Homo sapiens: one gene and its partners. Changing the gene in region 1 together with any one later gene gives a genetic interaction. Each region holds a gene or a part of one and is shown in the gene's direction. Other genes may lie near its edges.

Region 1 (3,500 bases):
AATACTACATATGAAAATTCATATTGCTTTTTTATTTTTTAAAAAAGCTTTTGTTTTATAAAGGATTTCCTATAGAATTTCTTAAAAATGCTACGTTTTTCAGGATAAGTTATTTGAAATATTCCCATAAAGGGAAAGCATTGCATTTTGGAAATCACTACCTCTAGGAAGAGTTGATTACTTTTTCTTGTCTCTTGATAACACTAATTGGGGCTCAGATATTTCTGAACAACTGTATAGACCGTAATGCCTCACTTGTTCTAAATATTACAACTTTTTTTTTCTCTTTTCTTTGTTTTTTGGTTTTTTTTTTTTTTTTTGAGACAAAGTTTCGCTCTTGTTGCGGAGGCTGGAGCGCAATGGTGCAATCTCGGCTGACTGCAACCTCTGCCTCCCGGGTTTAAGAGATTCTCCTGCCTCAGCCTCTCGAGTAGCTGGGATTACAGGCATGTACCACCATGCCCGGCTAATTTTTGTATTTTTAGTAGAGATACGGTTTCTCCACATGGGTCAGGCTGGTCTTGAACTCCTGACCTCAGTTGATCCGCCTGTCTCAGCCTCCTAAAGTGCTGAGATTACAGGTGTGAGCCACTGCGTCCTGCCTCTATTTATTTATTTATTTATTTATTTTTGAGACAGAGTCTTGCTTTGGCGCCCAGGCTGGAGTGCAATGGCTCTATCTCGGCTCACTGCAACCTCTGCCTCCTGGGTTCAGGTGATTCTCCTGCCTGACCCTCCCGAGTAGCTGGGATTACAGGCGCCCTCCACCATGCCTGGCTAATTTTTTTTATTTTTAGTAGAGATGAGGTTTCTCCATGTTGGCCAGGCTGGTCTCAAACTCCTGACCTCAGGTGGTCCACCCGCATCGGCCTCCCAAAGTGCTGGGATTATAGGCGTGAGCCACTGCGCACAGCCCAACATCACAACTTTTAACCCTGGTCTTCCTCTATTGTGTCAGTAAGAGCATTTTTAAAAATCAGAAGTTTGAGCATGAATAAGAATTTTGCTCCAAGTGATACTATCAAGAAAGTAAAAAAGCCTACTCAAAAGGAGAAAAAATATTTATAAATCATTCTGATAAAGGACTTTGATTTTTATTTTTTGTTTTTGGAGACAGGGTCTTGCCCAGTCACCCAGGTTGAGTGCAGTGGTGTGATCATGGCTCACTGTAGCCTCAACCTACCAAGTAGTTAGGACTACAGGCACGTGCCGCCATACCTGGCTAATTTTGTAAAAAATGTTTTTGTAGAGATGAGGTCTCCCTGTGTTACCTAGACTGGTCCTCAAACTCCTGGCCTCAAGCAGTCCTCCTACCTTGGCCTCCTAAACTGCTGGGATTACAGGCATGAGCCATGATTCCCAGCTAATAAGGGACGTGTATCAAGAATTTTTATAGCTCAACAATAAAAAGACAGCCCAATTTAAAAATGGCCAAAAGTTCTGAATGACATTTCTTCACAGAGCATACACAGATGGCCACTGAGCACATGAAAAGATGTTTAACATATTAATCATTAAGGAAATACAAATCAAAACCATAATGAAATACCACTTCACACCTACTTAGGGTGGCTGTAATAAAAACGTTAGATACTAACAAGTATTGACTGGCACAAGAAGAAATCAGAGCCCTCTCAGACACTGCTGGTGGGAATGTAAAATGTAACTACTTTGAAAAACAATCTGGCAGTTCCTCAAAATGTTACAGAGTCACTAATCCTAGATGTTTACATATGTATGTATATCCTAGGGTTGTGTGGGTGGGGGTGTACATATGTATCCCCAACAGAAATAACATGTCCATACAAAAGCTTGTACAAAATTGAAATCAAGGAATCATTTTTACAGCACTGTTAATTTTCACATGTATTACTACCTCTGGGGTGTTTATGTGATGCATTTATATTCACAGACAGAATGAACATTGTTATATTTCAAGCTTACATGACGTGTCTTTGCTTTACATTCTTTCTTTTTTTTAAATACTGTTTTAGAGACAGGATCTCACTCTGTCAACCAGGCTATAGTAGAGTGATGTGATCACAGCTCACTGTAGCTTGAGCTCCTGGCCTCAAGCAATGTTCCCACCTCATCCTTCTGAGTAGCTGGGACTACATGTGCACACCACCATGCCTGGCTAATTTTTAAAAATTTTTTGTAGAGATACGGTTTCATTATGTTGTCCAACCTGGTCTCAAACTCCTGGCCTCAAAAGATCCTCACACCTTGGCCTCCCAAAGTGCTGGGATTACAGGTGTGAGCTACTGCTGTACATTCTTTATTAATGTTTAATATAACATTGCTCAAATTATAGCTGCATAATTTTTGAAGAGGGACTGTCATTCTATAAAATTGTGCATGATATATGTAGTTATGTTTTCAGCTTACTGTAAAAATCATAAATCTCAGTCCCCTTTCAATTTTTTAATGTGAGTATGGTGAAGGGAAAAGCTAGTATCTTGTTCTGTGGGATAAAATTGCTTATGTCAAATCTGTATTTTATTTCAAAAGTATATTTCCATCAAATTAGGTTATTTAAAGAAAGTTATTTGAGATAAATATGCTTAAAATATTTTTCAGACCACATGAATATTTCTGAACTTACTGTCTTAGTCCACTTTAACCTGGCATTAGAAAGTAAGAACAAGAAATTGAACTTGAAGCCTTTTTTTTTTTTAATATATAATTGGAATTAATTCATTCATAAGAGTGGTACTCTCATGACCTAACGCTTCTCATTAGGTCTCATCTCCCAACACTGCTGCATTGGGATTAAGTTTCCCAACCTGCTTTTTCGGGGGTTCATTTAAGCTGTAGCATTCTGCCTCTAGCCCCCAAAATTCAAATCCTCAATCAGATATGGGTGAGACTCAAGGCAGGATTCCTGCTGAGGTAAATTCTCCATCTGTGGGTCTGGGAAATCAGGCATCTTATCTATTTTCAAAATACAGTGGTAGGATAAGCATAGGATAGACAGTCCCTTCCAAAAAGGAGAGATAGGCAAGAATAAGGGTAACTGGTCCCAAGTAAATCCAAAACTCAACAGAACAAACAAGATTAAATCCAAGGCACCAGAATAATCTTCCTTGGCTCCATGTTTTGCCTTCTGGGCATGCTGGGTGTGGAGTTTGGGCCCCAGAGGCCTTGGGCAGCCCCATCTTTATGGGTTTGCCACGTGCAGCCCACATAGCATCTTATGAGTTGGAGTCGGGTGCCTGCAGCTCTTGCAGGCTGGTGGTGTGCCCTGGTAGCTCAGCAGTTCTGGGATTTGGGGGATGGCTTTTTCCCCATGGCTCCACCAGGTGTTGCTGTAGTAGGAACTGCTGTGTGGCTCTGCCCTTCTGAAAAGTTTCTGCCTGGAGCCCCAGGCTCTTTGTGATGTCTTTTGAAATCTAGAGAGGAAGCCGTGCCTCCACAGTTCCTGCATTCTCTGCATCTGCAGACTTAACACCACATGGACACTGCCAAGATTTGCTGCTTGTACCTTCAGAAGCTATGGC
Region 2 (3,500 bases), on another chromosome or scaffold:
AAATTTTTCAAAGCTAAAGTTACTTAAGCATGCCTTTAAAAGTCTGATAAATTGAGATAAGCAAAAGGAAAACTTAAGGGTCTTTTCCCCAAAAGTTTCAATAACTGAAAGGTTTTTTTTTTGTTTTTTGTTTTTGTTTTTGTTTTTTTTGAGACGGAGTCTTGCTCTGTTGCCCAGGCTGGAGTACCGTGGCGCGATCTTGGCTCACTGCAACCTCCGCCTCCTGGGTTCAAGCAGTTCTCTGCCTCAGCCTCCCGAGTAGCTGGGATTACAGGAACCCGCCACCACGCCTGGTTAATTTTTGTATTTTTAGTAGAGACAGGATTTCACCATCTTCGCCAGCCTGGCCTTGAATTCCTGATGTCGTTATCCGCCTGCCTCAGCCTCCCAAAGTGCTGGGATTACAGGTGTGAGCCACTGTGCCTGGCCTGTATTCCATGTTTTTCAAACTTATACTATATAATATATATCTTTCTGAATCTTGCTCTTTTTGTACAACATTGTGACTTATCCATGATAATATATTCTGATTATCCATCTTAATATGTACTGCTTTCGTTCATTCCTTTTAACAACTGTATAGTTTTCCACAGTATGAGTATATCACAATCTATTCTTCTAATGTTTTCATAGTATAAACAATGCTGAAATGAATATTAACCAATGACCTTATGTTATACAAAGACTAGTAAGTAATAAGTATTGCCCAGCTCCCACCACCAGTACTCTTAAGTTTTGGATAAACTCTAGTATTTGGCAACATACTACCATATTTGCCTATTAGAATATTAATTATGTATTTTTGAGTCAGTATTTAAAATTCAGGTGTATTTTTTTTTTTCAGTTTGACCAGTTCGACTCAAAAATAAAAAATAATTATTTAATATTAATCTGTTGGAATGAATAATGAAATTACGGGTATTTGAGATTATTTTTATGTTAAATACTAGTGCCCGATTATGTTAAAGTAGAAGCACTTCATTATAACTGTTCAGCTGGGTAAATTTAAATTGTGGTATTTCACATATTAGAAATATTTTGTCTTGATTGCAGGATTTACGGAAGGCTGCAGTCCTTATCTTTGCAAATAAACAGGATATGAAAGGGTGTATGACAGCAGCTGAAATCTCGAAATACCTCACCCTTAGTTCAATTAAGGATCATCCATGGCACATTCAATCCTGCTGTGCTCTCACAGGAGAAGGGTAAGTTCATCCGTCTGAGGGGAGGTATGACTTCTTTCAAATTTCTTCCAACTTTTTAGGCCAACTTGTTTTCTTCATGGGTCCTGTTCCTTTTCTGTTTGTTTGTTCTTAATTAAAGGTGACTTTTATAATGTGTCTCAGGCTTACAACCTAGAAATAATTCTAGTAAAATCACTGGCAACTTAAAAACTTTTAATGTAAATATAATGTTTTACCAAAAAGCAATAAACTATTGAATTGAGTTTTCATAATCCAAATTTTTTTCTTTGTTGCCTTTATCATATACTGAGAAAAAAACTGTAATGTCACCTTTCTTTTAAAAAGGAAGCTTGAAAGAAATTTCACATTTTCTGCAAGGACTTAAACCTGAGCTCTCAGCTTTCTGCAAGAGTATGTCTTCTTTATTATTAGGAGGTCTTTTGGGAGGCATATTTCCAGACAATAAACAGTTGAGACAAATGCCACATGGTCTATTCTTCCATCTCTAACAATTTGAATGTGGGTATTAGGCCAAGAAGAACCGAATGTTATTTAAGTATTATCCTGTTTATATCAGAGAACTTATCCTCAAATCAACCTCACCTTCTTAGTTTTTCTCTTAGTATTTATCAGAAATAGCTTGCAGTAATAGCTGTGTGTAGGCCTTTTTGACTCATACTTTTAAGACTGAGTCTAAGTATTCCATTCTTTAGAATTGAGGAGGATAAGGTGAAGTTGCTATTGACTTTCTCCAGTCGTTAAGTTTCAGTTAATTTTAAAAGGCGGGGAGTATTTGCACTCTTCATGGCAAAACTGGCAAAGTTGTATCTTCAAGATGAGACTGAAGCAATTTCCCACAAACTGATTAAGAATATTTAAGAGAACATTCCATTTAAAAATTTCACTTATTATAGTGTGACTTGAATGTTGACACTGATGTATATAAATAATGATTGTGCTACCAGCCTTTGGTTAAGACCTAAAAATAATAAGTACGCTTTCAGTTTTTAAGTATAAGGTTTTTAATTAAAAATACTTCTATCTTTTGTTTAGGTTATGCCAAGGTCTAGAGTGGATGACCTCCCGGATTGGTGTGAGATAACTTTTTTGCTTGAAAGAGACTGCTCTATTTATTCTGTGACATGAACATTTTTTCCTAGTACCTTTGGCTGCTAAGGCAGCAGCATGTTTAATTTATAACAACACAAACCTCTGAGAGCAACACTTGAATCAAGTGCAGCTGAACTGGAACATAAAAGATTTTTTCTTAACTTTTTTTTTTTAACACACTAATCTTCAGTTGGATGAATGTAATGTATAACTATGTTTTCAGCAACAATTCTTCTGTTTATTCTAATTAATCAGTGACTGCCTTGTAAGAAATGTTTGTCATATGCGTGATGTCTTCTGAAATATTCTTATAACCTTAATGACCAATTGCTTTCAATTCTTGACCAGCACTCCCTCCCAACCAGAGAATTACTGGTTTGATAGAGTAGTCTTGGAAACCATCAGGTACTGCCTGCAGACTTCTCCAGCACTAAATATATTTGTTCCCTCTATAAACCATTCATCTTTCGGACAGAACTTACTGTAAAGAAAGAAATCTGCCTAGAGGATATATGTAAGGAAGATTCCACATCATGAGTACTTGCCTTTTAACTTTCCCCCACATTACTGTTGAGTCATGGAATAATGTTTAAGTTGTTATTTGCATGGAAATTAAGTAGGCTGTTTATTTATCTAAAGGAATCAAGTCCACTCTTCTGCCTGCAACATTTGTTCAAAAACTAACCAAGGTAAAATATTTATTTGAAAGCCCAACTTTGATGTTAAATATTCTTGAATAAATCTGTTATTTTAAGAATATCACATTATTCAATGCATATAAAACTATCAGAAGTTAGTAAATCATACCAGCACTAAAAATAAGACAATTGGAATATATTTTAGCATCAGTTTACAAACAACTTTATTATCAACAGAAATTTTAGCTCTTTTCTTTGCAAGATATATCACAGCTGCTTTGGGCAGTAGCTGAAGCCGAAGTATGAACAGTCCATTTTGTTTCTTAAAATTTGAAGTCGTGTCTGTCATAGCATTTTTACTACCAGCAGTATGTTACTTAAAAAACTACATGGCTTTCCTTGAATTTATTTGACGGTATTATGTAATAGACTTGAAACAATTGCCATCTTTGTAGTTATGCCTTGGGTTCTAAAATGTTATAGGAAACTGCTGAATTGAATCCTAGCTTTTAGAATATTAATAGGAGACTCAAAGTTAATATTCTTAACAACTTAAAATTAAAAAAAG
Region 3 (3,500 bases), on another chromosome or scaffold:
TTTTTTTCCCTTAACTATTTGCTAATTCAATTATACCTCCAACTTGCCCTACCACCACCACTACCCCTAGACCAAACTGACCTATATTTTGTATCCTTTCTATTTTATATAGTGTACTAAAGGAAGTATACCAAGCCTTTAATCCCAAAGCAGTGGTCTTACAGCTGGGAGCTGACACAATAGCTGGGGATCCCATGTGCTCCTTTAACATGACTCCAGTGGGAATTGGCAAGTGTCTTAAGTACATCCTTCAATGGCAGTTGGCAACACTCATTTTGGGAGGAGGTGAGTATAAAGGAAGGTTACCAGAATTTGTTGACCTTCCTCCACATTTTGTCCATTGGCACTGAACTTGGAAAACTTGGCTTTCTTGCATTGGATAATACCAACCTACCTGAGGCCCAGAAGCCTGAGTCAATAAAATCTGCCACCTCCACAGTTCAGAATAAGAAAATACTCTGACACACTTCTCAGCTTAGCATGTGCATTGACTTCTTGGCACTCTAAAGTCTAAATTTCAATTCCTGAAGCAAAGATCCTCTGGTTAAAGGTTACCTCGAATCTTAAAAATAGAGGATGTTAACCCCGGTAGACTTTGATCCACCTTCTCTCAGTGTAGTCTTTGATTTTCAGTTCTAATAATCATCTTTTGGGAACATGTCACTGAAATTCCAACTCTACTTGTATGTAAGTAGTAAACACACAGATTAATTAAATAAGCTGAATTCAAGAATGCCTCTTCCCCCAAAAAGCATGGATTTGTTACAGTGAAGCAAAATTGAGAGATCTATAGTCTCTTGGGCATTCTTGCCTTTGGTGTGTGCTGATTATTTGTATTACTTAGCCAAAAGAAAGCCCGGTCTATTCAATAGTAGCATTTAAACATTTGAGAAAAGAACTTGTCACAACATCTACCACCTTTAAAGATGCCTTGCTTAAAATCTTCTGTCTACCTACCTGGCACAATCTTTATTTCATTGGATGAATAGATTGGTGTGTTAAAATAACATGGTCAAGCAGATTGAGCTTAAAATGCATATATTATAGAAGAGCTAATTGTTGGTTGTTTTGTCAACCTGTTAGAGGAAATTGTGGGGAGGCCTTATTAAATGAGTGGGCATTCAACACAAGTACACAAGCCTTGTCCTTTGGCAGCCTCAAACTCTAGAAGGCTCAAAATTAAAGGTACTTACAAGAGACAACCTCTTATGAAAAGCTGGCAAGAAATATATTAACTTCAACTGAAGAAAAAGATAAAATTGATAAGTACTGTGTGACATATTACTTTTCTTGACAGCACTAAGGATGGTGATTATGATACAGGTACAGCTAAGGAGGGGGAAGAGACCTTTCTACCATATACATCAGGTTAGAACCTGACTTTTGTTTGAGGCTATAATCTTTACATTAAAAGCCTGTTAGCATTCTCTAAAGCCTTTTTGTTTTCTCAGCCCAAAGTTTTGACATTTGAATATATAAGTCTTCTTAGGAAATATGTGTATTCCTGAAAACGCTTGTGCATAAATGGAATTTTTGCAAATCAAATCATATTGTATATGTACCAGAGATAGTTTACTACCTAAGCAAAACCTATAGTGACCTTTTTTTGAAATTAAATACTCATGCCGAATAAGTCTATCTTATAAAGTCAGATTTTTCCGTGTCAGGAGTATTTAAAGTAATACCTGTACTATCTAACTGAAATTCTCAGCCCTATTAACACACAATTCGTAGAGGGAGCCACATCCCCAAGCTTCAGTGGACCCCATTGAGACCTAAAAGACATAGTCAAAGCATCCGTGACCTTTCAAATAGTAGAAAAGCTTAAGAAAAGAGTGACCATATGTCCGAGTTTATACATGTTATCCCAGTGTAATGATTAATAGTGCCCTCTTTTACTTTTAAAAGTATACCATTTTGTATGATAATTTATATGGTCACCCTATCTAAAATAGACCAGATTCTGTTTCCCTTAGGCTGCGTTGAGATTAGGAAATCATTCCATTTTACCCTTATACTCTTAGAATTTAGCTAAAGGCCAATGTTCTAATGCTTGCATGGCAGAGCACATCTATTCAGCACAAAAATGTGCTGATTATTAGCCAGTATAATATGGCCGTTGGGTGACTGTGACAGGACCTGACGAGATGGGTCAGAGCATCCATCAACGGTCCCTTCCTCATCTCACTCTCTTTGATCTCTGCCACCAGGCCTATGTTTTGTGGCAAAAAGGAATGCTGACATCAAAAGAAGGAAGTCTGTTTTTGTCAGCATTTTCCTTTTCTCTTTCCTGGGTTTTTAGGGCTAGATCTGCCAATAGTTTTAAAAATACAAATCACATTCAGCAGTCATTTTATAGAATTGTTGCAAAATTCATCACAGAAATCTTTCCATTGGGTAGATCACCTCAAGAGATCTGGATTCCAGAGATCTGAGTCTTGCTGATGGCTCTTGATGGAACTGAGGAGTTTGGATTCCTCAGGTACATATTTTTGGGGAGATGGGAGCCTATTTAATCTTTGCAGACCTTGGACTGCCCAGTTTTACACTGTGCATGATTTGACTGGTCCACCAAAGTCTGCCTACTAGGTGGTTTAAAAATATCACAAAGGGGGGATTAGGGGAAATTCTGCAATTTGAGGTTGTCTTTTCTTAAAACATTTTTCTCTCTTTCCTTACCCCCCTTCCCTCTCCTGCTGTTTTATGACTATTCTTTCCTAACTTCACAATTCTTGATGGAGACAGGAGGCTATAACCTTGCCAACACGGCTCGATGCTGGACATACTTGACCGGGGTCATCCTAGGGAAAACACTATCCTCTGAGATCCCAGATCATGAGGTAAGTAAGGCTCTGACAAGTCCTCTCTTCTTTAAGGGGAAGAGCTGAGTCATTCCACCTAATCAAAATCACGTCCTCACCACTCAATACCGTTTTGTTGAGAGACACTTCAATAACAATAACACACTGTCTTGGCAGAATAGTGGACTCTTGTTCCAAAATATCCAAGACCTTCTGCCTTTTTGTTTTTTTACAAGAGATCTCAAAGGCCAACCAACTTTAATTTCTCAATTAATTACAGAGACTGTGGGAAGGGGTCACCTGTTCACACAAAGAATTCTTTGGAATATGTGCATATTTTTATCCCCTAGCCTCAAAAAGGAAGGGGCTATTTTTAAAATGTGTAAGCTGGATTCTCATCTTTTTTTTAAGAAGTTTCATAGGTGGTACGTGGCACATGTTCTTTGGTGGTAGTCCTGATCTCTCAATTTTCTTTGACTAATGTAAAATTCAAGAAACCCACAAGCACTACAAAGACCATTGCTGATGTTTTTCTAGCAATTAGTGGCACACAGAGGCTGGAATAGGACCATCCAAAATGTGAAACGTCATTTGAGCCCTTGCCATTTTCTTTAGTCATACAAGATGGGCTTTATGTTTTCCAAAGCAAAGATGTCTGTTCTAGTTTTCCCAAAACAAGTTCATGGAAAGCTGTCTGGG
Region 4 (3,500 bases), on another chromosome or scaffold:
TTCTCTATAAATAGTATATTTATAAGTTAGTTGTAGAATTAAACAAAATATATCAAGATCCTACACAGTGCTTGGCCCATAGCACAAAATTATAAGTTTTTATTGTTGTTATGTATATAAAGGCTGTGTATTGTGAATTTGACTCTGCTGAAACAGACAAGATGAGAATACTGGAAATGATAATGTGTTAGGGTGGTAAATTGTATTAGAAATTTTGTGTGATTTTTTTTTTTTGAGAATAAAAATGTCTCAGGAAGAAATGCTTCACTTGTTCTGCTAAAAAAAATTAATAATTTTGGGACCCCCAAATTTTGTTGAAATGATATTTTGTTAGGGTACATTATTGGATACCATATTTTCAGATTTCAGAAGCTAGAGATTAAATAATTGGTGTTCAACCTGTTTAATAAATTAGTAAGTAAAAGGAAATGCTCTGAATTGAGCGAGAAAGAGGTAGTTTACTTATCTTCCTTACTTTTTTTCTTTAATTTCATGGTATTAGTGGTGTAGGATAAGTGAATGTATGTACATGAATAGATAAGTATTCTATAAAGTAGCTCTAGTGTTCACAAACCTTCTCTATCTGCTGTCGCCCATCCCTCATCTCCACCTTCACCTTTAAGAGTGGGAATATGAGAAATGAGTAATAAGGGAAGATGCTCAAGAGCAATTTAAATTATGCCTTCTGCCAAAAAGCAGATTAAATTATGAAAGTAGGCATGTTAAGTTAAAGGTAGAAAGAACACAGAGAGCAGAGAGATACCATTCGTGTACTTTGTCTTGTGAAGCATTATGATGTACTTAGCAAACATTGCGCATATGTGCTGCTCACTGAGTCATAAAAGTGGTTTTGTTTTATGGAATTTTTTATGACTCTCTTTTTTAATGTGTTTTAAATATTTTAGGAGCCACTGGAAGTGGGGAAATGGTCTGTACAATATGTCAAGAAGAGTATTCAGAAGCTCCCAATGAAATGGTTATATGTGACAAGTGTGGCCAAGGTAACCATTGATTTCTTTTAATCTTGTTACATACTGAATGACTATGTTGAAGATTAATGACTAAAAATACTTTACATTGATAATTTGAAATTATCCTTTTTATTAATTATATTAATGTAGGAAATAATGCTAAAATGCATTCTTGAAATTGTGTTGAAAGTATTAATGAAACCGAATTTGCTTTATGCTTTTTTTGATATTAAGGATATCATCAGTTGTGTCACACACCTCATATTGATTCCAGTGTGATTGATTCAGATGAAAAATGGCTCTGTCGGCAGTGTGTTTTTGCAACAACAACAAAGGTATATTTTAAGTGTTTTGGGCTAAAGCTCTGATGGAATTTGTAAGACATTATCAACATAATGATTGTGTACACTGAAAGTTTGTTGGAATGAAATGAGCAATGAATGCTGGGTAGAAAGAGGTGCTATTTATTTGACTAATGATGCTTAAGTGACTTTTTAATGATGCTTTCACTTATTTGATGATAGTAATACGGGAATTGGTGCAGTAATTTGAAAGAAGAAAAGAAAAATAGAGATTATTATTAATCAGACAGTTTGTGATATGGTAAAAGTTTGGAAAGGAAATTTCTCCAGAAGTGTCAGAGTCGTTTTTAAAGTATAGAATTGTGTTTAAAATTTTAGCCTTCACTCTTTCACATTTTTTTCCCTCTAATGTAGAGGGGTGGTGCACTTAAGAAAGGACCAAATGCCAAAGCATTGCAAGTCATGAAGCAGACATTACCCTATAGTGTGGCAGACCTTGAATGGGATGCAGGTCATAAAACCAATGTCCAGCAGTGTTACTGCTATTGTGGAGGCCCTGGAGAGTAAGTAAATACAGTTATGTAATTCCCTTTAAGTAATTTTTATTTACTTATCTATTTTTCTTGATTATGGTGTGTGAGTGATGGTGAATTGCAACTGCATGAACACATCAGTGAAGAAAACCAGGGGGAAAATCTATTATTTTCATAAAAAAATAATTTTCATCTAGTTTTTGATCATATCCACACATTAAAATATTTGTATAAGTCTTATATTCTGGAAATTTAAAGTGAATTATAAATATTGTCATAAAATTAACTATTGAGGGAAAACATTTACTGCAGGGGCCCAGTATCAGTAGTTTCATTGGATGTCATATTTAATGTGATTGACCATTTAGAAACTGGTATATTTAATATTATAATTTAAATGGGAGAGTAAAAGACAAGTTTTTTAAGACATAAAATCAACATGGAACTTTTTCACAGATAGATTACTGCTTTCTTCTACGTATTTTCATTTCTTTCTTAAAGTGATAGGGCACAGATTGTAGTGCAGTGACATGATCATAGCTCACTGCAGCACTGAACTTCTGGGCTCAAGTTATCCTCCTGTCTCAGCCTCCGAAGTAGCTAGGACCACAGACACGTGCCACTACACCTGGCTAATTTTAAAAAGTATTTTTTTTTTTGTAAAGACAGGTTCTTGCTACCTTGGCCTCCCAAAGCTGGCTGGGTTTACAGGCCTGAGCCATGCTGGCCTGGAGTAGCATTTTTATTTTCTTCCAGAACTTTTTCTTTGCATATACAGTTTGGCCAGCTGTTTGGTGCAAGAGGCCTAGCTTTTGGCCTATCTTGGCTTTTGACATACCTTCCTAACGTTTGATTTAAATTTAGAGACTTGTGACTCTTCCTTTCATTTGAACACTTAGAGGCCATTGTAAGATTTTTTTTTTTTTTTTTTTTGAGACAGGTTCTTGCTCTGTTGCCTCGGCTGGAGTGCAGTGGCATGGTTATAGCTCACTCCAGCATTGAACTGGGCTCAAGCAATCCTCCCATCTCAGCCTCCTGAGTAGGTAGGACCACAGGCATGCGCCACCACACCCTGCTAGTTTTTTAAGTTTTTTTGTGGAAATGGAGTCTTGCTATTTGTCCACGTTGGTCTCCAACTCTTGGCCTCAAGTGATTCTCCTGCTTTGGCCTCCCAAAGTGCTGGAAATACAAGCATGATCACCACGCCTGGCCCCCACTGTAAGATTATTAATTAGCCTAATTTCAATATTGTGTCTCAGGGAATAGGAAGCTTGAGGAGAGGGAGAGGGATGGGGACTGGCTGGTTGATAGTAGTCAGAACACATGCAACATTTAGTGATTAAGTTTGCCATCTTAGGTGGGCACGGTTTTTGGTGGCCCAAAATAGTTATAGTAGTAACATCAAAGATCACTGATCACCATGAAAGATACAATATTAATAATAATGAAAAAGTTTGAAATATTATGGGAATTTCCAAAATGTGACACAGAGACATAAGGTGAGCACATGAACCTAGAAAAATAGTGCTAATAGACTGAATCAAGGTATAGCTCTGTTTGGAAATGGTGCCTTTTATTATTTTCCGATAAAGATAACCGTATCAAAGTTTGGAAATGGTGCCTTTTATTATTTTCAAATAAAGATAACCATATCAAAACCACATACTAGCTGGGTGTGGTGGTGTGTACCTGTA

The links.
Region 2: changes in EED (region 1) and ARL5B together harm fitness more than expected from each alone (negative genetic interaction), as found in Homo sapiens cells (one large-scale study listed by BioGRID).
Region 3: changes in EED (region 1) and HDAC8 together harm fitness more than expected from each alone (negative genetic interaction), as found in Homo sapiens cells (one large-scale study listed by BioGRID).
Region 4: changes in EED (region 1) and MTF2 together harm fitness less than expected from each alone (positive genetic interaction), as found in Homo sapiens cells (one large-scale study listed by BioGRID).

The regions. Positions count from the first base shown.
Region 1 is NC_000011.10:86,258,253-86,261,752, forward strand, and holds part of EED (polycomb protein EED), read left to right. Parts: intron 1-3,500. UniProt on the Homo sapiens protein: Polycomb group (PcG) protein. Component of the PRC2/EED-EZH2 complex, which methylates 'Lys-9' and 'Lys-27' of histone H3, leading to transcriptional repression of the affected target gene.
Region 2 is NC_000010.11:18,672,931-18,676,430, forward strand, and holds part of ARL5B (ADP-ribosylation factor-like protein 5B), read left to right. Parts: intron 1-1,053; coding exon 1,054-1,205; intron 1,206-2,237; coding exon 2,238-2,286; 3' UTR 2,287-3,500.
Region 3 is NC_000023.11:72,461,344-72,464,843, reverse strand, and holds part of HDAC8 (histone deacetylase 8), read left to right. Parts: intron 1-112; coding exon 113-285; intron 286-2,741; coding exon of another isoform or gene 2,742-2,745; coding exon 2,746-2,840; exon of another isoform or gene 2,841-3,500. UniProt on the Homo sapiens protein: Histone deacetylase that catalyzes the deacetylation of lysine residues on the N-terminal part of the core histones (H2A, H2B, H3 and H4).
Region 4 is NC_000001.11:93,113,783-93,117,282, forward strand, and holds part of MTF2 (metal-response element-binding transcription factor 2), read left to right. Parts: intron 1-905; coding exon 906-1,001; intron 1,002-1,205; coding exon 1,206-1,306; intron 1,307-1,687; coding exon 1,688-1,836; intron 1,837-3,500. UniProt on the Homo sapiens protein: Polycomb group (PcG) protein that specifically binds histone H3 trimethylated at 'Lys-36' (H3K36me3) and recruits the PRC2 complex, thus enhancing PRC2 H3K27me3 methylation activity.